Linked DNA regions of Homo sapiens: all the other regions are linked to region 2. Evidence: fine-mapped expression QTL. A gene starts in region 2. Each other region holds a variant in brackets. All regions are shown on one strand. Distances are between the middles of the regions. Region 1 overlaps CRYBG1 (crystallin beta-gamma domain containing 1). Region 2 holds the start of CRYBG1 (crystallin beta-gamma domain containing 1). Region 3 overlaps CRYBG1 (crystallin beta-gamma domain containing 1). Region 4 overlaps RTN4IP1 (reticulon 4 interacting protein 1).

Evidence for each region. PIP is the estimated chance that this variant, and not a neighbour inherited with it, causes the effect.
Region 1: its variant is fine-mapped to the expression of CRYBG1 in whole blood (TOPMed, PIP 0.96).
Region 3: its variant is fine-mapped to the expression of CRYBG1 in tibial nerve (GTEx, PIP 0.90).
Region 4: its variant is fine-mapped to the expression of CRYBG1 in spleen (GTEx, PIP 0.90).

The regions. Positions count from the first base shown.
Region 1 is chr6:106,535,444-106,540,645 of GRCh38, forward strand. It overlaps CRYBG1 (crystallin beta-gamma domain containing 1), which reads left to right. Exons shown (of 22, transcript NM_001371242.2): 9 at 3,960-4,086. Among named protein-coding and RNA genes, the nearest start is that of RTN4IP1, 91 kb to the right of the region's middle. The variant T/C (reference allele first, on the strand shown) is at 2,639.
Region 2 is chr6:106,357,939-106,363,140 of GRCh38, forward strand. It overlaps CRYBG1 (crystallin beta-gamma domain containing 1), which reads left to right and starts at 2,779. Exons shown (of 22, transcript NM_001371242.2): 1 at 2,779-3,143. The coding sequence starts at 2,971. RefSeq lists silencers at 2,580-2,789, 2,810-2,889 and an enhancer at 2,785-3,651.
Region 3 is chr6:106,543,569-106,548,770 of GRCh38, forward strand. It overlaps CRYBG1 (crystallin beta-gamma domain containing 1), which reads left to right. Exons shown (of 22, transcript NM_001371242.2): 11 at 1-29; 12 at 1,003-1,129; 13 at 1,220-1,365. Among named protein-coding and RNA genes, the nearest start is that of RTN4IP1, 83 kb to the right of the region's middle. The variant A/G (reference allele first, on the strand shown) is at 2,535.
Region 4 is chr6:106,592,857-106,597,856 of GRCh38, forward strand. All of the region lies in intron 5 of RTN4IP1 (reticulon 4 interacting protein 1), which reads right to left. Among named protein-coding and RNA genes, the nearest start is that of RTN4IP1, 34 kb to the right of the region's middle. The variant A/G (reference allele first, on the strand shown) is at 2,776.

The DNA.
Region 1 (5,202 bases), 180 kb after region 2:
ACTTCAATGTACATTGGAGATATCATGACCCTTCATTCCACATAGGATTCAGCCTGACTCTCTTTCTAATGGTATTCCCCTGCATAAGTATCATTATTACACTTGAGAAAATTCACAAAGTGTCCATGATAATATCTGTTCAATAGTCCATCACCAAATTTTCCCAATTGCTTCAGGAATGTCTCTTATAGATTTGCATTTTCAAATCAGGATCCAATCAAGGTTCACATAAATGCGTTTGATTGTTCTGTCTCTTTTAAGTCTCTTTTTAAAGATCTCTAAAATACCCCATCTTTGTTTCCCAAGCCACTAACTTTTTTTTTTTTTTTTTTTTTTTTTTTTTTTTTTTTTTGAGACGGAGTCTCGCTCTGTCGCCCAGGCCGGACTGCGGACTGCAGTGGCGCAATCTCGGCTCACTGCAAGCTCCGCTTCCCGGGTTCACGCCATTCTCCTGCCTCAGCCTCCCGAGTAGCTGGGACTACAGGCGCCCGCCACCGCGCCCGGCTAATTTTTTGTATTTTTAGTAGAGACGGGGTTTCACCTTGTTAGCCAGGATGGTCTCGATCTCCTGACCTCATGATCCACCCGCCTCGGCCTCCCAAAGTGCTGGGATTACAGGCGTGAGCCACTAACTTTTAAAAAGATTTAGGCCAGCTGTCTTAGAGAGTGTGCCACATTCTAGATTTGTCTGAGTGTTCCCTCATGCTACTATTTAGCATGTTCTTCTGTTGCCCGAATTTCCTATCTACTAGGGCTTAGGTCTTAAGGTATGGTTAGGTTCAGGCCAAACAGTTTTGGCACGGATACTTCATATAGATAGTGCCATATATTTATGTTGTATCACAGCAGGTGGCATGTGCTAACTAGCTTGCCCTTTAGCAATACCAAGTTTGATTGCTTGGTTAAAGTGGTGCCTCCTCCATCTTTCCATTGTAAAGGTTCATTTTCCCCTTTGACATTCATAGCCCCCTCTCTTGTGAATAACCTCAAAGTCAGTACCTTCATATTTAATTTTTCAAGTATCCAGTTGGTTTCTGTGAATGGCCAATATTCATGTACAGCCATGTCTAGGGAACACAACTTAAGATCCATCTGGAAGTGCTGTTTTTGTTTAAGAGCAAGTGAACAAGATAAGACTGATTTTTCTTGTGTGACTCAAAGGGTATTTCTAAAAGAGTAATTGGACAAATATTTTAAATAAACATATAGATGGCCATTGTTATTACTTTAACAATATTCATTTGTAGGTATACATTTGTTTGTTTAAAAAATAAGCTTGGGCTTTATAATCATACTGTTTGTTAAGTACGACAATAAAGTTGTACTTTTTAATCTATATTGGCGAAAGCTTATGACCCAAGTACATGGGAAAATAAAAGATTACCTTTAGAAACTGAAATAACCCTGCCTGGAGATAGTTTCCCCCTCTCCTGATGGCCTCATAAATAATGTATCTTATTGGAACAGAATTTAGAAAAAGTGAATCATACTCTGCATATGAGTTTTCAAATTCAAAGTCCACCCAGCATTAATAAATGTCTGTTTGAATTACCCAGCAGGCCTTCAGCACTCATTTACTAAGGGAGAACTTTCAGAACAGCAGTCTTTTCAAATGCATTCATTCATGTTTTCGGTTTTTTCACAAATTCCCCTCTACCCAGAATGACTTTCCTTCCATGAATGTTATGCAACTAAACCACATGCTTCAACAGAAGTGAAATGTTTAGTATTAGATGAATAAATCCCCTCTGAACTCAAGCTATAGAAGGAAAGACTTAATGAAAAGGGTACTTCGGTAAGAATCATTTCAAAATCTCAGATCGCTTGCTCGTGAGCCGTACATTCAGTTTTTGAAAAATTAAACCTGTTCACTTGTAAAGAAGTCAGACTTGGGACCTGCTTGGTTAGCCTAATACCATAATGTGTTACAGAACTGCCATTATTTTGTTAGAGAACAAAATCCATGGGTACTGTGCCTGTGATAGCTTTGAGCTCCAAAATACATGTAACGTATCCTTGGCTGTCATGCTTTAAACATAAGGAAGTGTAAAGTACCCTATTCTTAGCGTCTGTTTTCTTGTGGTTTAGAAGCATTACAGTAGTATTTAAAAGATAAGCCTCTTTTTTTCCTTAAGGTAACTTTTTTTGAAGCATAACATTTGTACAAAAAGGTACATAAACCCTAAATATATAAGCTGAGTGAATTTTCACAAAGTGAATACACAAGCGCAGTCACCATTCAGATCAAGAAAAAGAACATTCCCAGCATCGCAGAAACCCGTTTCTTTCATGCGTCCTCACGCCCTCTTCCCCAGGAACCATCATCCTGACTTCTAACACTGTAGTTCTGACCTCCTACCCATATCCCACACCTGGCCTCCCAACATTCTTTCATGTGTGTGTTGTCAAATCATCAGTAGGAGCCTGGTTGTAAATCTCTGTATAATTAGAGAGTCTAGAGAAGTTACCAGTTTATCCAGCGGAATCTTCACAAAAACCACCGCCAAAAATGTGCCTTGGGCCAAAATTGGGAAGAAGAAAAAAGCAAAGAGGGAGGGGTCAGACCCGTTTTGTTGGTAAAAGATTTCATTTACAGCCACTCTCTTCTTGGCATGGTGTTCTGGGGAACACAACATGG[T/C]GGAGTACCACGGCTAAAACATTTTAGCAAAACTAACCGAATTGATGAGTGTAAGTGATCACTAAGAAGTCTATGTTTGTTTATGAAGCAGGTACATTAACCCCTCTCTTATAGAAAAGTCACTTCTTCAGCATCCTCACCTTCTCAGAACCCTTCCCAGGAACGAAGATGTTTACAAGAAGACCTTGTAAAGTTTAGAGACAGGGCTAGTAGGCATGGTTTTCTGGTTTCCTGATTTCTGGCACATTAGAGGAGGGTGGGGCTGCTGGTTCCCCAACTGAAGCAGAAGTGACAGCTGACAAGCTGATAGAAGGGTGTGGTATTGAAAAGCCATAACAATCAGAACCAAGAACTCAAAAAGCTTTGTGGCCTGGGAACAAGCAGCCCCACAGAACTTCAGAGCCCCTGAGGACACCACTGTGCATTAAATAATGCTCACAGTGATGATCCTGAGTAACTGTGAAAAGAGTAAACTGTGTTCAATGCACTTCCTGCAATGAGAAAAATTGCCATCACAAAAATGATTAGGGCTGGGCATGGTGGCTCACACCTGTAATCCCAGCACCTTTGGGAGGCCAAGGCGGGCGGATCACCTGAGGCCAGGAGTTTGAGACCAGCCTGGCCAATATGGTGAGACCCCCTCTACTAAAAAAAAAATGCAAAACTTAGTCGGATGTGGTGGTGTGTGCCTGTACTCCCAGCTACTTGGAAGGCTGAGGCAGTAGAATCACTTGAACCAGGAGGCAGAGGTTGCAGTGAGCTGAGAGCAAGCCACTGTACTCCAGCCTGGGTGACAGAACAAGACTCCGTCAAAAAAAAAAAAAATTGATTAGGAACCTGGTTCTGGAATCGGCTTGAATCATTCCAGCCTTTCATACTTATAGCTGTGTGGCCTTGGGCAACTTACTTAACTTTATCTATAAAATGGGGACAATAGCTTCTCTTCCTCATAGCATGGTTGTGAGGATTAGATGAAGTTCTCAGTGGCATTCCTTGTAAGCTCTAGGGAGATGTTAGCTGTTACTAATGTTTGGCACCATGACAAATGATTAGATGGAACTTTGGAGCAATTAATAATACAAATTAAAATAAGGGGACAAAGCCAGCCAAGGAGAAAAGTAAAAGATCAAGAATAGGGGCATATAATGGCTTTATTTTTCCTTGAGTCTAGTGTGATTCTAACACCTGAGTCCAACCATTCATTATGTAGGTCCGTATCCTCTCCTGTTCTTTTCCTCTCATCCTGGGTACCAGACAGAAGGAAAAACTGAAACAAATGATGAGTCGGCTCCCTTTCTTTCCTTCCATGGTGGCTATTTAGGTGGCTGATTTATGAAGAACCTGGATTTCAGGGTGTTCCTTTCATCCTGGAACCTGGTGAATACCCTGACTTGTCCTTCTGGGATACAGAAGAAGCGTACATTGGATCCATGCGGCCTCTGAAAATGGTAAAAATGAAATCCAAATGTCCTTGTGGTGATTCTTTGTCAGCTTGACGTGGTAATTCACAGGGTGTGACTTTGAAGCAATAAAGCTGACTTTTAAGAAACAAATTTGTAGTAGATTGGACCTATTGCTCAATAGAAATCATGGAAAGAATAACTTGCTAGATGCTATAGATTAAAAAAAAAAAAAAAAAGGCAGGTAAGACTATGTCCTTTGTCTTTAAGGCATTCTCAGCCCTGCAGAGCTGCAGATGGGTGCGCAAAGCTTCAGCGCAGTGTAGGTTTAACAAGTGAGGAAAGTGAAGAATTAAACATTGGTGGAAAAACAGGACAAAGATACATACAATTCCAAGTTGTGGGTGATGTGACAGAAAAGGGATAATTAGGAAAGCTTCATGCTAAATTAAATTCAGTCTTAAAAAATTAGCAGGATGATTTTTTAAATGGAGCTGTCGGTGAATGCACTGTGTGAGCTAGGGTGCAGCCTGAGAGAGAGCAGGGCACGCTGAGGACCGGCTCGGCTGCCGTGACACGAGTGGGTGGTGTCTTGGGGGTCTCTGGGGCTGGACCAGATGAGTGTTGTCCTCCTGAGTATCTGCTGTGGAAGCTTTGTGCTTCCTCTCCCTTGTCCCAGTGTCTTGCTTTGTTCTTTGTTTCTTCCGCTAGACTGTCAGCTTTGGGAGGAAGCAGGCCGCATCTGTCTTGTCCCCAGTGTTGAGCGCAGTGTGTGCTGCAGCATGGAAGTTGTTCCCTAAATACCCACAGTGAGATGAGGCTCCCATTACAAACATGTTTTTGAAGCTGCACTTCGCAGTTGTCTTCTGAGACAGTTTGAGACAAATTAGAAAGTTAGGAAGACAATTTTTTTAATGTTAATTTTACCCATCCTTCCAAAGTATTTGGTTTAATTATCTGTATGTTTGCTGGTCTTAATGCAAATGATTTGGGCTTTTGTTTCTAAAATTAAACTCACTTTCAAAGAACAAAGTTTTGTTAGTTTTGTGAATGTATGAAAGAATTCATCCAGGTTTTAGGAGCAGTTTGTAATGATGATGAAAAGTCTCCAAAGTCTATGGTGTTCAAACAGGATTACTTTTGAAAAGGTCATGTGCTTAGTTG
Region 2 (5,202 bases):
TTCTTTGCCTTTTCTTACTGTTCCCTTTGCCCTTTAAGGTTCAATCCAAGGGCCATCTTCATAGTAAATCTTTACTGACCACTCCCCTTCCTCCCTTCCAAACTACCACGCTAAGTTAGTAACTTTTCTAAACTCCCCTAATACCTTGTACATACCACCACTGATTCTTTTAGCCTTTGATGTGTGTTTGTGTACATATATATGTATATCACATGATATATATATCAGATGATTTTATATATATATATATATATATATATATATATATATATATATATATATGATATAATCTATGCATCTGTCATTGCCTCCTCCCCCAAGTCAGGGCCTGGCACATAATTAGTACAGTACTCAATAAGTTCAATAACTGTTTCTTGAGGAAATATAAATTAAAACTGCAATGTGATACCACCACATCCCCATCAGAATGGCCACAATGAAAAGGATTGTTAATATCAAGTGTTGATGAAGATATTGAAAAACTGGAAATTTCAAACATGCTAGAAAGAATATAAATGGGAAACTTTTTTGGCAGAATTCACTAAAGCTGAACATATGCATATTGTATTACCCAACGATTGAACTTCCGGGTATAAGTATCCAACAGAAATGAATGTGTACATCTCAGAAGGTTCATATCAATTTTATTCATAATAGCCCCAAACTGGAAACAACCTAATGTCCATCCACAATAATGGATAAATGAATTGTGGCATATTCATATCATGGAACAGTATACAATAATTTTTTTAAATGAAAAACTGCTATGGGTCAGGTGCAGGGGCTCACCCCTGTAATCTCAACACTTTGGTGGGAGGCTGAGGCGGACAAGTCACTTGAGCTCAGGAGTTCGAGACCAGCCTAGGCAACATGGAAAAACCCAGTCTCTACAAATGTACCCCCTCCAAAAAAAAAAAAAAAGCCCGGTCCTGTGGTGTGTGCCTGTAGTCCTGGCTGCTCAGGAGGCTGAGGTGGGACGATCACTTGTGCTCAGGTGGTCAAGGCTGCAGTGAGTGCAGTGAGAGGTGATGGTAACAGTGTACTCCTACCTGAGTGACAGAGTGAGACCCTGTCTCAAACAAAACAAGACAAAAAACTGCTACAATATAAGCAACAATATAGATGATTTTCACCGACTAATATTGAGCAAAGCAAACCAGAAACAGAGTACATATTGTGATTTTCCACTAAAATGAAATTCCAGAAAAGGTCAAATTAATCTCCAGCAAAAGAGGATGAAATAATGGTTAACTTTTACAGGTGGGAGGGGTAATGTACTGGAAGAGGACAGTAGGGAGATTTTTAAAGTTTTGAAAGTATTCTATATTTTTATAATCATATATATTTACCTATTATTATTATTTGAGACATAGTCTCATCCTGTTGCTCAGGCTGGAGTGCAGTGGCGCCATCTCGGCTCACTGCAACCTCTGCCTCCTGGGTTCAAGCGATTCTCATGTCTCGGCCTCCCGAGTACCTGGGATTACAGGCGCACCTCCACCACCACGCCCAGCTAATTTTTTTTTTGTATTTTTAGTAGAGAAGGGGTTTCACCATGTTGGCCAGGCTGGTCTCAAACTCCTGACTTCAAGTGATCTGCCTGCCTCGGCTTCCCAAAGTGCTGGGATTACAGGCGTGAGCCACCGCTCCTGGCCTATAATCATACATTTAAAAGCCACATACGGAAGAATTTTCTAGGACAATGTCAACTCTCCATTAAAAAACTTTTCACACCCCAACCACATAAATATGTAAAAATTTGAGTTTTACCCTTATGATTTGTGCATTTTACTGTCTATAAATTACATCTTGATAAAAATGTAAATAAAAACAAATAAAAATGAATGTTCCTTGAATGAGTGAATAAACGAATGAATGAGTTGTGTTTTCAAAGAGGAAAATAAAGACATTACCGTGAAAGAGGATCTTGTACTGCATTGAATTTTTAAGTAGTGCTTAGTTCTTGCACTTTCTTTGCTCTAATGATGCCCAAAATAATTGTTCGTTTACTTACTTTGCTTAAGTATTAATTTCCTTTGCTATTTAGCCACGACTGTGAAGTTAAGACAAGAAAGTCATCAACAGTAATGCAGATGATGTAAATACCTTGTGGGACTGGCATTTAATTTACTGCGAGGGATCTATTAAGCTCTTGGGGAATTGGGGAATATGCCTAATTCCCTTCTGGCGTTTTTAATTTTTTTAATCCTTTTGTGTTTTATGAGATGTGAGTACAAATTAATTATTCAGACTCTTGAGAGAGGAGACGAGTTGGCGGAGTTGCCACCCGTGTTCACGAACAGGAACAGAAGCCACCAGCACATGACATTGCCCAAGCCACCCAGAGATCAGAGTGGAAGAGTCCTAATTGCTGGGCGGCCCAGCCCCGGGATGTGCCTCTCCCATCCTTCTCCAGGCGGGGCTCGTGGCTAAGCAGCGACTCACCCTGCCAGCCTGTCACAGGCCAAGAGCGGCCAACAACTCCGCAGGCGACAATGGCCGCTGCACCCCAGGCGCTGTGGAAGCCCGACCCGGCTCTGGGTCCCATCTTAGAGCCTGGGATGCAGTGTCGGGAGTCGCGGTGCCCAGAGCATCCAGTAGGTGTCGCTGTCCCACGGCCGCCGCGCGCCCCCGGGGTGGGGAGCCGGGGCGTGTCTGCCTCACCTGGGGCTCCCGGCGCGAGCGCCTCACCTGGGCTAGCGCCCCTTGCCGCCCGCGCCGCGCGGGGGCGCTCTTCCGCGGCTGGGTCCCCGCCTCCGCCCCAACAGCTCGGGCTGCAGTGCTGCTCGCGCTGCGCTGGGTGCTGGTTCTGCAACCCGCGGCCGTCCCCCCGCATCCGCGACGAGGGGGCGGGGTCCCACGGCGCGCTGAGAAAGGCGGGCGAGCTGGCGCTCAGGTGTGTTCTTCCATAGGGCCCGGGCGGCAGAGAGGACCGCGTCCCGGCAGTCGGAGCGGGAGGAGGACAAGACGATGCCGCTGTCCCCGCCAGCCCAGGGCGACCCCGGGGAGCCCAGCCCGTGCAGGCCCCCTAAGAAGCACACCACCTTCCACCTCTGGCGCTCCAAAAAGAAGCAGCAGCCGGCGCCGCCTGACTGTGGGGTGTTCGTTCCGCACCCGCTCCCGGCGCCTGCCGGAGAGGCCAGGTGAGCTCCTCGCCCGAGCCCTCCAGTCCCACCTCCTCCTCCTCCTCCTTCTCCTGCTGCGCTAGCCCTTGGACTCCTGACCCCACTTGGAGGAGGGGAAAGCCCCGGGGTCTGTTTCAGTCCGCAGGAGGGTACCCGGGTCCGGAGGGGAGCGATCGTAGCCGCTGGGGTTGACGAGGTTCCTCGCGGCTTTTGGTTCAGACCAAGCACCGGCGAGAGGAACTTGTGCCCACGCATGTGGCCTTTAGTATGACTGCAAAGTTTTCATGCAGGAGCCTCCCGCATCAGCCTGCTAACCAGAGCGGCGGGGAGTGAGGGTTGTTACCGTCCTAAATGATGGCGGGAACTCTGCTTTGGGGTTAGGCACTGCTTTTGAGCTAGTGTCTTTATTGTAAAGCTCTTTATTGTGAATATCTGTAAGATCTGTGCTCTTACAGATGTTATACCCCCATTCTCCTCGCAACATACGAAGGGAGGAGGAAGTGGCAGGAATGGTTACCCCCATTTCATGGGTGGAGGAACTGAGACCAAAGGATAAATGGCTTCTCCCCATTGGAGCCAGTGGCAGAGCTAGAGAGCACCTAGTTATCAAAACTGTAGTTACCATTGTGCTTTTTGATTTTTATCATGGTTTTGAAGTGGTTTTATTCTATATGTATAATTATTCAACTATAGCATCAGAGTTTATGCATTCGTTGAATAATAATCAATTTGAAGTAACAGCGTATTTACATGGCTCAGAGGTGTGAAATATTTATAGTGATGGACAATTGACAATGTCCAGTAAATCCTTCCAAATGTGTTTTTAAAATACACCCTATGAGGGCCAGAATAAAATTGTGCAAAATTTGCATTTTAGACATGGTTTTCCTTTTATTTCTTTCTTTCTTTTTTTTTTTTTTTTTCTGAGACGGAGTCTTGCTCTGTCACCCAGGCTGGAGTGCACTGGCCCAATCCCGGCTCACTGCAAGCTCCACCTCCCGGGTTCACGCCATTCTCCTGCCTCAGCCCCCGAGTAGCTGGGACCACAGGCGCCCGCCACCACGCCCGGCTAATTTTTTGTATTTTTAGTAGAAACGGGGTTTCACCGTGTTAGACAGGATGGTCTCGATCTCCTGACCTCATGATCCGCCCGCCTCGGCCTCCCAAAGTGCTGGGATTACAGGCATGAGCCACCGCGCCCGGCCTCTCCTTTTATTTGTAAAAAAAGTCAATTTTACGATCTATTTTCATTCACTTATTGTATTGAGTACCTTAGCTAAGTGCCATGTACTGCGATATAAAAAACAATGAGAGACAGGAATAATTGTGTCATCAAAGAATTGTTAGTCTCTTGTGGATACCAAAAAATGCAATGATAGATGCCAGCACACAGGAGGGGATCAGGGAGGCTTCCTGGAGGAGGATAGGTGAAGTGGCTTAGGCAGAAACAGGGAGGAGCAGCGAGTTCCAGGCAGGGGCTGCACTGTGCACATCACCAGCACTTAGAAGAGCGTGGCACTTCCTGAGAAGCGCAAGTGGTTGCAGCGGGGAGGTCTAGGTGTGAGTGGGTAAGGGTAGGAAACCTAAGAAAGAAGTCATTTTATTTTTCTCTCATATTTTATCATCCACATTGGTAATCAGTTGTAGTAGAAATATATTACCTATTCAAACGTTTACTGTGCCTAATTATAGATTATACTTTCTAACAAAATACAGTATTTAATGTACCCAACATTGAAGTTCTTTTCTATTACCTCAGTAAATATTTTAAACATTTCCATCGTGGTTTTCCTTTTAAGATCTAGTCTTATCATTTACTGTCTATCAAAACATAATAATACACAGCTATAGGTAATTTATTCAAATGTAAATACATTTTAGTATAAAATTTAAAATAGGAGGCCGGGCGCGGTGGCTCACGCCTGTAATCCCAGCACTTTGGGAGGCCGAGACGGGCGGATCACGAGGTCAGGAGATCGAGACCATCCTGGCTAACACGGTGAAACCCCGTCTCTACTAAAAATACAAAAATTAGCCGGGCATGGTGGCGCGCGCCTGTAGTCCCAGCTACACGGGA
Region 3 (5,202 bases), 190 kb after region 2:
GTGGGGTCTATGAAAGTTCTAAGAGGCATGTAAGTACATGGGTGACTTGTTAGGATTTCTTTTTTTTCCGAAATATTAAGTAATAAATGTGCCCTTTCCCCCCTAAAAACAACATTCCTGATTCTATAGTATGGTGAATTTTGACAGTTATATCCACATTCTCCTCAGCCTATAGTGACTGGATTTAAGAAAGCAGTTTGAGGCTGGGTGTGGTGGCTCACACCTGTAATCCCAACACTTTGGGAGGCCAAGGCGGGCGGATCACCTGAGGTCAGGAGTTCAAGACCAGCCTGACCAACATGGGGAAACCCCATGTCTACTAAAAAATACAAAATTAGCTGAGCGTGGTGTCACATGCCTGTGATCCCAGCTACTTGGGAGGCTGAGGCAGGAGAATCGCTTGAACTCAGGAGGCAAAGGCTGCGGTGAGCCAAGATCGCACCATTGCACTCCAGCCTGGGCAACAAGAGCGAAACTCTGTCAAGGAAGGCTGATACATTGGCCTGTTCAAGTTGATCAAATCTACAACCTTGCTTATTAGAATTATGCTCCAAGCTATTGAACAGTTTGATAGTTCGCTTTCTGATTTTTATATTTTTGCATCTTATAGATCTTGCACATTTCCCATAGAAGTGCACACTAAAGTTGCTCTTGTAAATCGCTAACTATTCATAATATTTTTGTTACTATCTGAAGTGAGTTTATCCAGTTTTGCTTGCTGAGGTTCTTTTGAGTCAGCCCTGATTAAACACACACACATACACACCACTCACACACACGCTCCCCTTCCCTTTTTTATACAACTCTGATATATGTCTCTTAGGTTATTTTCTTGGGGCCATTCTGTTATTCTCCTAAATTTTAAAGAATTCCAATGATAATAAAGCAGAAGGTCATGTCTAGCTTTATAACTATTTGTATTTTTCAATGAAATTGATATGTACCTTGAAAAAATGTTAACATGTCTGGAAATGACTACTCCTCGTGTTCTTTATGTTGCAGTTGGGTTGCATATGAGAAACCTGGATTTACCGGTCATCAGTATTTGCTAGAAGAAGGAGAATACAGGGACTGGAAAGCCTGGGGAGGTTACAATGGAGAGCTTCAGTCTTTACGACCTATATTAGGTGTAAGTAAAGGACAAGCTAATGGCTAATACTTGGTCTTCTTTGGATAATAAATGGCTAGCCTTTGAATTTTGAATTTTTTTTCTCAATAGGATTTTTCAAATGCTCACATGATAATGTACAGTGAAAAAAACTTTGGATCCAAAGGTTCCAGTATTGATGTATTGGGAATTGTTGCTAATTTAAAGGAGACTGGATATGGAGTGAAGACACAGTCTATTAATGTACTGAGTGGAGTGTAAGTGAAATAATCCAGTTGGAATTTTAAACATGCGTTTTACCTTGGTTTGTTTTAAACTGGTAAGAGTCTATCACAGAGTAGGCATTCAATACACAAATATCTCAACAGCTTAACATTAAATCAGTCATTTAATAGTTGCTGTCATGATATTTTCGTTAACTCTCTTTAAAAATCGTTCTCATACCATCTCTTCTTTTTACGTTTGGGGTAGGCTTTGGGTATCATGATAGAAATCTACAGATCTGTTTCCCTTGTCATTCTGCACAGAAAGATAGTGAATTTTTTAAATGATGGAGATCAAATAATAATAATAGTAATCTAACATAAACCTGAGGCTGGGTCAAAGTCCCAGTAGATTTTCCTGTGGTCCTACACCTGTTCCAGTATATTTCTTCACTATTAGTTTGACATAAAAATAATTGTTCTATGTACGTGGAGTTAGCAGTTGACTGTTTTATTAGTGGTGAAGCAAGTTTTTATTGAAAGATGTTTAGTCAAGATTCTTTGGGATGAAGTGACTGCAAGCCAAGCTAAATTGGCTCAAGGGATTAAAATGGAACTTACTGGCTTAAGTAACTAAAAAGTCCTGGAGAAGATTTTGCTTCAGGCATGCCTAGATGCAGCGGATCAAACACTATCAGAACTTAGTCTCTGTGTCTTGACTGGGCTTTTTTCTGTGTTAACTTGACTTTAGGTAGGCCTTTTGCATTTGGTGGCCTGTGGCCACATTCAGCTTTTGTTCTCCTAACTCTTTTTTTTTGAGGCAGAGTTTCACTCTGCCACCCAGGCTGGAGTGCAGTGGCAAAATCTCAGCTCACTGCAACCTCTGCCTCCTGGGCTTAAGCGATCCTCCTGCTTCAGCCTCCCAAGTAGTTGGGACCACAGATGTGTGCCACCAGGCCTGGCTAATTTTTGTATTTTTTTTTAGAGACAGGTTTTTGCCATGTTGCCCAGGCTGGTCTCAAACTCCTGAGCTCAGGTGATCCACCCGCCTTGGCCTCCCAAAGTGCTGGGATTACAGGCATGAGCCACCATGCCTGGCCCCAGCTCATTTCTTGCAGTGGAAAGAGCTTCTCTTTCTCACAAGTTCCATGTTTGACTTTGCTTTCCTAGGCTTGGGTCATGTGCACATGCCTGAACCAATCACTGTAGCCACAGAGACGGCC[A/G]TGTCTGGGCTACGTGTCCATCTCCAGAGCTGAGATGTAGGGTCTATCCCATAGGAGCCACTTAGATATGAATGGGGTTGGTGGTTCCCCAGGGACATCAGAAAGAGTGGGGAGATAGATGCCAGATGGGCAAAAACAGCAGATGGCTGTTATAGGGAGTTACATAATTATTCTTGTAATCCAGGCTAATGTCTATTCTAATTTGTTATAAGTGAGAGTATTCTCAAATAGTTACATGAAATAATGTGACATTGGTTATGCTGAAAGTGTTTGGTGTTAGGTTTTTGTTGTCATAGTGACATAGACTATTTGAATCATCCTAGCCTCAACCCCATTGTATCTCATGGGGCCTCCCACAATAGCCCTGGATATTTGAAAAGTGTGTACAATGTACTAAAAGTTGATGAACATGCTTAACTTTTACTCTTAGTAAATAGAGTAAAAAAAACCTTGTTCAACAAGTTCTTGTCTAGGCCGTTGCATGTGGTGCCATTTTGGCAGAGTATCAGTGATTTCCGGGTATTCCATTCTCAGCAGGAAATGCCTACTCTTGGGTCCTATTCTGGAGCCCTAACATTTTAGAATCAGTAGCCTGTTTGCAAAAGCCAGAAGTCATCTGAAATATAAGGTACAAGTTATCTGAAATGTTGCTGGGGCTCTGCAGTATTTTAGATTGTCTTTAAAGCTAATTATTTAGGAGGAAAACATAGTGACCAACTTAGTCTGGTGAAACAGTTGTACATTTTGATACTCACCAGTTGTGTTGGTTCTATTAGTCAGAGCCTAGTCATCCACCCTGGCAGAGGAAGCAAAAGGATGCTGGGTAGAATGAATTCCCTTAGGTATTTTGTAGATGATGCTATTAACACAGGTAGAATTATTGTGCCTTGAGCCAATCTCCTTTCCTTTTTAACCCAGGCCTTGCTTACTTGAAATCAGTTCCCTTTATAAAGTGCTGCTATTATATGTTTCTATTTTTAGTCATTTCTAATTGCATTTCCTGGCTTAAGCTTCTTTTTTCTGGCTGTAGCAGTTAAGTTTTGGTAGAAGGGGGAAGTTGAAGGGAGCTACGTACACATACGTGGACACACACACACACACACACACACACCACTTCCTTTGAAATTCTTTGCATATGGAAGGGCTTTTGTATTTACCAGGGCCAGGTGCTTCCTCATATTTTGTTCGATTTGTCATTTGACAAGTATTTATTGCGGTCTGTTATGTGCAAAGCATTGTATTATGTCCTCAAAGAAGTTACGGTATTTATGTAAAACATAATTATTGCTACAAAAGAGGTACAGATTAAATGCTCTGGGAATCCACAGCAGAGAGAGATTAATTTCCAGTCTGGACACAGGGAAGGAAGACTTTGTGGAGGAGGTGGCATTGGAGTTAGGCCTGTGGGATAGGATAGGAAGGCTGAGATGAGCCAAGATGATGGAGGAGGACTACCTATTCACTTTAAATAGTTTCAAAGGAAAATTATTGTATTTTAATGGCTTTATTTTTATTGGCAATTAAGTATTTTAGCTTGGTTCTTTATTTCTTATTATGGCATGCATTGTCAGAAAAAAACTCTTCTGAAGTTCTTGTTCCATGAAAGTATCTCCCAGGAGGCTCACCATCACATGGGTAATACATCCCCTGGGCAGTAAACTCATCATTAGTCCTGAAACAGAGAACAGCCTTCAGGAAGGATGCCCATGAAACCAGCAACTGAGGTTTTTAGGAACTGCATTTGATTCTTACTGGAAATGTCGAAAGAAACTCCCTGCTTATCAGTTTCTAGTTCTATGCTATATTCTTGCTCAAATAGTGGAAACTGGGCTAGTTTTTTAAAACTAGGAGCAAAATGAAATATTTCTGGTATTCAGATGAAAACGAAAAGTGTTGTTGTTTTAAATTCTTTTTCCTTTGGCCTTCCACGGAAGGGCAGGTTTACCCTGCTGCCCTTATCTTCTGAGCAATTATTCCACCAGGCTGGGACCTGCTAGTACTTGTGTACATGCCTTTCCCCCGTCTCCCCACCAGTCTTTAAACAGAGGAGTGTTGATTCATGTGTACAGAATACATCTGGACAAGGACAGGGAGGGATTTTCTTAAGAGCCCCAAGTGTAAGTTGTAAGTAGACTCTCGGATCATAGAGCAGAGAATCTCAGATCTGGGTTTTGCGGCTTCTCCCCTCCCCCACTCCCCCCATTCATGGGTGATTCATCAGGTATCTTGGAGGGAAAACAACACTACTGTCAGTTCAAGTAACATCTTAATAAATTGTTTTCCAGCTTCAGCTTCAGTGAATTAGAGATAGGCTTAGCTGGGTGTTGGGTATTTACTTACAAGTAGTTTAGTTTCATAGGAAAATACAGTACCCATACTTGTTAGTAAAAAGAACAGAGTACTGGCTAAAGCTGCTTCCAGGGCTGTCCTCTCTCCTTGGCATTCAGCCTCCCACCTCACTGTCTTTTTTCCCTCCAAACCTTGAAGTCAAACAGAAAGGCCTTTAACCCTCTTATCTCTCTACTTGTTACAGACTCGGAGCCCTGGTGAGAACCCTTTTTTTGATGTGGCTCTACTTCTTTAATTGTTCGTTGTTTTTTTAAAGTCCTAGTGTTTGTAACGTAGATTTTCTTTTTTTTTAAATTTTATTATTATTATACTTTAAGTT
Region 4 (5,000 bases), 230 kb after region 2:
AGGCAGAGGTTGCAGTGAGCCAAGATCGTGCCATCGCACTCCAGCCTGGGGTACAAGAGTGAGACTTCATCTCAAAAAAAAAAAAGCCTCAAATTTAGCACTTTCAAGGATAGCAAAGTTAAATGGCCCAAAAATAGTATGTCTTCAGAAAAATGACTATTTAAAATGTATACAGAACATTAAAATGCCACATATCTTCATTTGCATCTCTAATAAGTGTTAACACAATATTGAATCAGAAAGCGTGTCAAAGTAATGAGCTATTAAGTAATAGGTAACATATGAAAAGGTTCTCTTAAAAAGAAGGGGAAGAAACTATAATCATTTTTTCTTAAAAACTTGGATCAGGTCCTCTCCCTTGGAGTAAGAAAACCTAAATAAATGTTACCCAGGTTTTAAAATGCAGATGCCTTATATTTTAAAATAATAAAGAATAACTAGATTTAAATTAAAAGGAGAGCTAAATTCTAATGTTATTCAGAATTAAGTATCCAGAAAGCATTCTGCTCCAAAATTGCTAAAATTCTTTTCTATAATGTTAATTTCATAGACTTAAAAGGGGGCTATTTTCAGCTAATTTGAGAATAGCCACTTGAAGATTACTAAGAAATTTTTGTGCAGATAATTATAGATCATAAGAGATCACTTGTTTTCTCAATCTTGTCCTAAGTATCAATTTCCTGAACTTCCTTAATATAAGATATAAAGGCTCACTAGAATACAAGGGATCTGTGTTTGTCTGGTTCACTATTGAATCCCTACTCCATGGCACACAAAGGTGCTTAGTAAATTTCTGTTAAATACAAAATGTAAATAAAGGGTTTTTAACTTATTCATAATCTTACCCAATTTCTCACTTTTAAAAAGCAACATTGACCAAAGACTTATATATCCTGAAAATCTGTGGGGAATTGAAATATTTAGGAGTGATATGATATACAATTTATTGTTTATGGGCTGCAAACAGAGACACTTGAGTGTAATGATACGTTGCTTTTCACAGCAAGTCCCAAATCAAATTCAAATATGTGAAGAATATAATCCAAGATGAATAGCTCATTGTGACCATCCTTTCTCTATACCTATATTAAAAAAGAAACTATTGAGGAAAAAGAAAAGTATGTTCTAAGCACCCACATTTAATACATGTTTTTCTTTAAACAGTATTAAATCCTCAGGAAGAATCTGTCACATGTTGAAACAGGTTTTTTTCCTCAAATTTCTGGTTTTTCCCCTCAAATTTCTAGTTTTTCCTTTCCCATTTAGAGCTATTTATTATCTTTGAACATTATGAAAATGTTTTAAAAACAGTTTTACTTAATAAAAATTTTTCATGTAATATAAAACACAACTATAGAAAACACCTATAGACGGGGTGTGGTGGCTCATACCTGTAATCGCAGCACTTTGGGAGGCTGAAATGGATGGATCACTTGAGCTCAGGAGTCTGAGACCTGCCTAGGCAACGTAGTGAAACCCCGTCTCTACTAAAAATACAAAAAAGTAGCTGGGCCTGGTGATGCATGCCTGTGGTCCCAGCTACTCAGGAGGCTGAAGTGGGAGGATCGCTTGAGCCGGCGGGGGTGGAGGTTGCAGTAAGCCAAGGTCGTACCACTGCACTCCAGCCTGGGTGACAGAGTGAGATTCTGTCTCAAAAAACAAAAAACAAAAAAAGAAAGAAAGAAAGAAAACAGCTATAGGGTGAACACCACCCAGATAAAGCAGCAGCACACTGGAAGCTATGCCAAAAATTCTCCCATGTGCCCCAAACCACAGAAGCCCCTCCTACCCTTTCCCAAAATAATTATTCTGATTTTTATAGTAATCACCTCCTTGCATTTCAAAAAGTTTATCACCCAACAATGCAGTCTCTAGACACTATAGTCTTGTGCATTCTTAAAACGTGGTATCTTTTAAATCTCTTTTTTTATTATTTATTTTTGGGTTGTTTTGGTTTTTTATTTGAGACAGTCTCACTCTGTTGCCCAGGCTAGAGTGCAGTGGCATGATCTCGGCTCACTGCAACCTCCACCTCCCAGGTTCAGGTGATTCTCCTGCCCTCAGCCTCCCGAGTAGCTGGCACTACAGGCACGTCACACCACGCCTGGCTAATTTTTGTATTTTTAGTAGATATGGGATTTCACCAGGTTGGCCAGGCTGGTCTTGAACTCCTGAGCTCACGTGATCCACCCGCCTTGGCCTCCCAAAATGCTGGGATTACAGGTGTGAGCCACTGTGCCCGGCCTTAAGTCTCTTTTAAATCATAGGCTCCTGTTCTATCCCTTTGCTTTCCTATAATTTATCTATGGAAGAATCTAGGCCATTTGATCTGTGGAGTTTCCCACAGTCTGGAATTTCTAACTGCACACCCACGGGACAGTTCCACACGTCGCTCTGTCCTCTGTATTTTCTGCAACTCGGCAGATGGATCTGGAGACTAGATCTGATTCCATTTCAATCCCTTTAGCAAAACTATGGACAGTGTCTGGCAAAACTAGAGGAGGCACATCATGTCTGCTTGAGGCTCTCTTTATTATCTTAGCAGCTGTCAATGCTTAATACCCATATCTGCTTATTGGTGGTTGCGAAATAGTGATCTTCTAATTCTACTTCTTTTATTTAAGTAGTTGGAATACTTTCTTTCTTTTTTTTTTTTTTTGTGGGGGACAGTCTCGCTCTGTCCCAGGCTAGAGTGCAGTGGCGTGATCTCTGCCCACTGCAACCTCTGCCTCCTAGGTTCAAGCAATTCTCCTGCCTCAGCCTCCCGAGTAGCTG[A/G]GATTACAGGTGCCCACCACCACGCCCGGCTAATTCTTGTATTTTTATTAGAGAAGGGGTTTCGCCATGTTGGCCAGGCTGGTCTGGAACCCTTGACCTGAGGTGATCTGCCCGCCTTGGCATCCCAAAGTGCTGAGATTACAGGCATGAGCCAACGCGTCCAGCCTGAATACTTTCACAAAATAACACTGCCCCTCATATCACTGCCCCTCACATATTATTTTGTCTGCTCAATTATACAGTTAATGTAGGAAAGGCAAGACAAATGCTTAACTGTTTTTCTTTATCAGTTTATAAGATAATAAATTGGTTCCCTATCAAATTCCAAAAGTGACCTCTTTTGAAAAAAGTATCATGAACTCATGGATTTAAATATATTTAAAAGGTTTCAACCCATTGTAATGGTCATTATTATTACTGAAGCTCAAACTGTTACATCTTTGGGCATTTCTTCAAGTTAGCTCTTGAGTCTTTTGACATGACCTGACTAGTCTTTGATATCTTCCTTGCTATTTAATATACTCCAGGTTAATTCTTTATATTTGTGCTCTAGATCTGAAATCAGCTACTTCTCTAAGAAGCCCTGCCTTGTTTCAGTGAGAAATGATATTTCAAGTGATGGCTTTACATACACACATACACAAAATATCTCTTGAGTTCATATTGATACTTCCAATTCTAATTTGAGACTACAAAATCCCAGCACTTTGGGAGGCTGAGGCAGGAAGGTTGCTTGAGGCCAGGAATTTGAGACCAGCCCAGGCAACACAGCAAGACCCCATCGCTACAAAAACGTGAAAAAATTAGCTGGGCATGGTGGCATGTGCCTGTAGTTCTACCTACTCAGGAGTTTGGGGTGAGAGGATCATTGAGCCCAGGAGGTTGAGGTTGCAGTGAGCTGTGATCATGTCACTGCATCTCAGCCTGGATGACAGAGCAACACACTGTCTCAAAAATAATGACAACTATTGCACTGTATTTACCTTATCAGAACATATGGCTGTTCCTACACTCTCTCCTTCTAAGCCCTCATTTAGTTTTGTTCTACAGGTAATTGTGTTGAACATTTACCACTAGTCCTTAAAATGTCTTCATAGTCATTCCTAGTCAGAAGCTCATTATCTAGTAGATTCCTCAGAAAAGGATCAGAAGAACAATATTCCCCACGTTCTTCATGTTGATAACAGTCTGTATGTGTCCATGATACCTGAAGGCCTGTTTTGTTGTATAAAAGATTCTTGGCGCACTCTTCCTTGAGTATCTTAAATATGTTACTCCATTTTTTTCTGCCAAAAGTGTTACTGCCAAAAAGTCTCATGATAGTCTAATTTTATTTCTCTTATAAGTCACGTCATCTTTTTTCTTATATGGACACATAAGTAGCACATGTGCTATTTTGTCTAGATTTCCAAAGGATCTTATTTCTTTTTTCTTTAAAGGCCAGTAATTTCACTATAATTTTTCTCCACATTTTTATTAGTAATTTTCCTTAGTGTTGCTCAGTCTGGGTCCATGTCCTTAGAAAAGTGATGTGTCTATTCAATATGTAATTTCAAATCATTTAATTTCAGGACAGTAGGAAAGTTTCTTTAATTATTGTTTTAATATGGGTTCAATTCCCTTGCTTTGGTTTTCCCCTTCGAGGACTCCTAGTATCCATATATCAATTTTCCTTGCCTGTCATCAATATTTGATACTTTCTCTTGACTCTGTTTTTATCTTTTTCTGTTTTTTTGAGATAGGTCTCACTCTGTCCAGGCTGAAGTGCAGTGGTGTGATCACAGCTCACTGCAGCCTCGACCTCCTGGGCTCAAGTGATCCTCACACCTCAGCCTCTCCATAGCTGGGATTACAGGTATGAGCCACCATGCCCAGCTAATTTTTGTATTTTTTGTAGAGACGAGGTTTTGCCATGTTGCCCAGGCTGGTCCTGAATCGCTGAGCTCAAGCAATCTGCCCTCCTCAGCCTAGCAAAGTGCTGGGATTACAGGGTGAGCCACTGTGCCCAGCCTATCTTTTTGTTTCTTTTGTAATTTGAATTTTTTTCTGCATTTTGTTTCTTTTTTTTTTTTTTTAATTATACTTTAAGTTTTAGGGTACATGTGCACATTGTGCAGGTTAGTTACATATGTATACATGTGCCATTCTGGTGCGCTGCACCCACTAACTCGTCATCTAGCATTAGGTATATCTCCCAACGCTATCCCTCCCCGCTCCCCGCACCC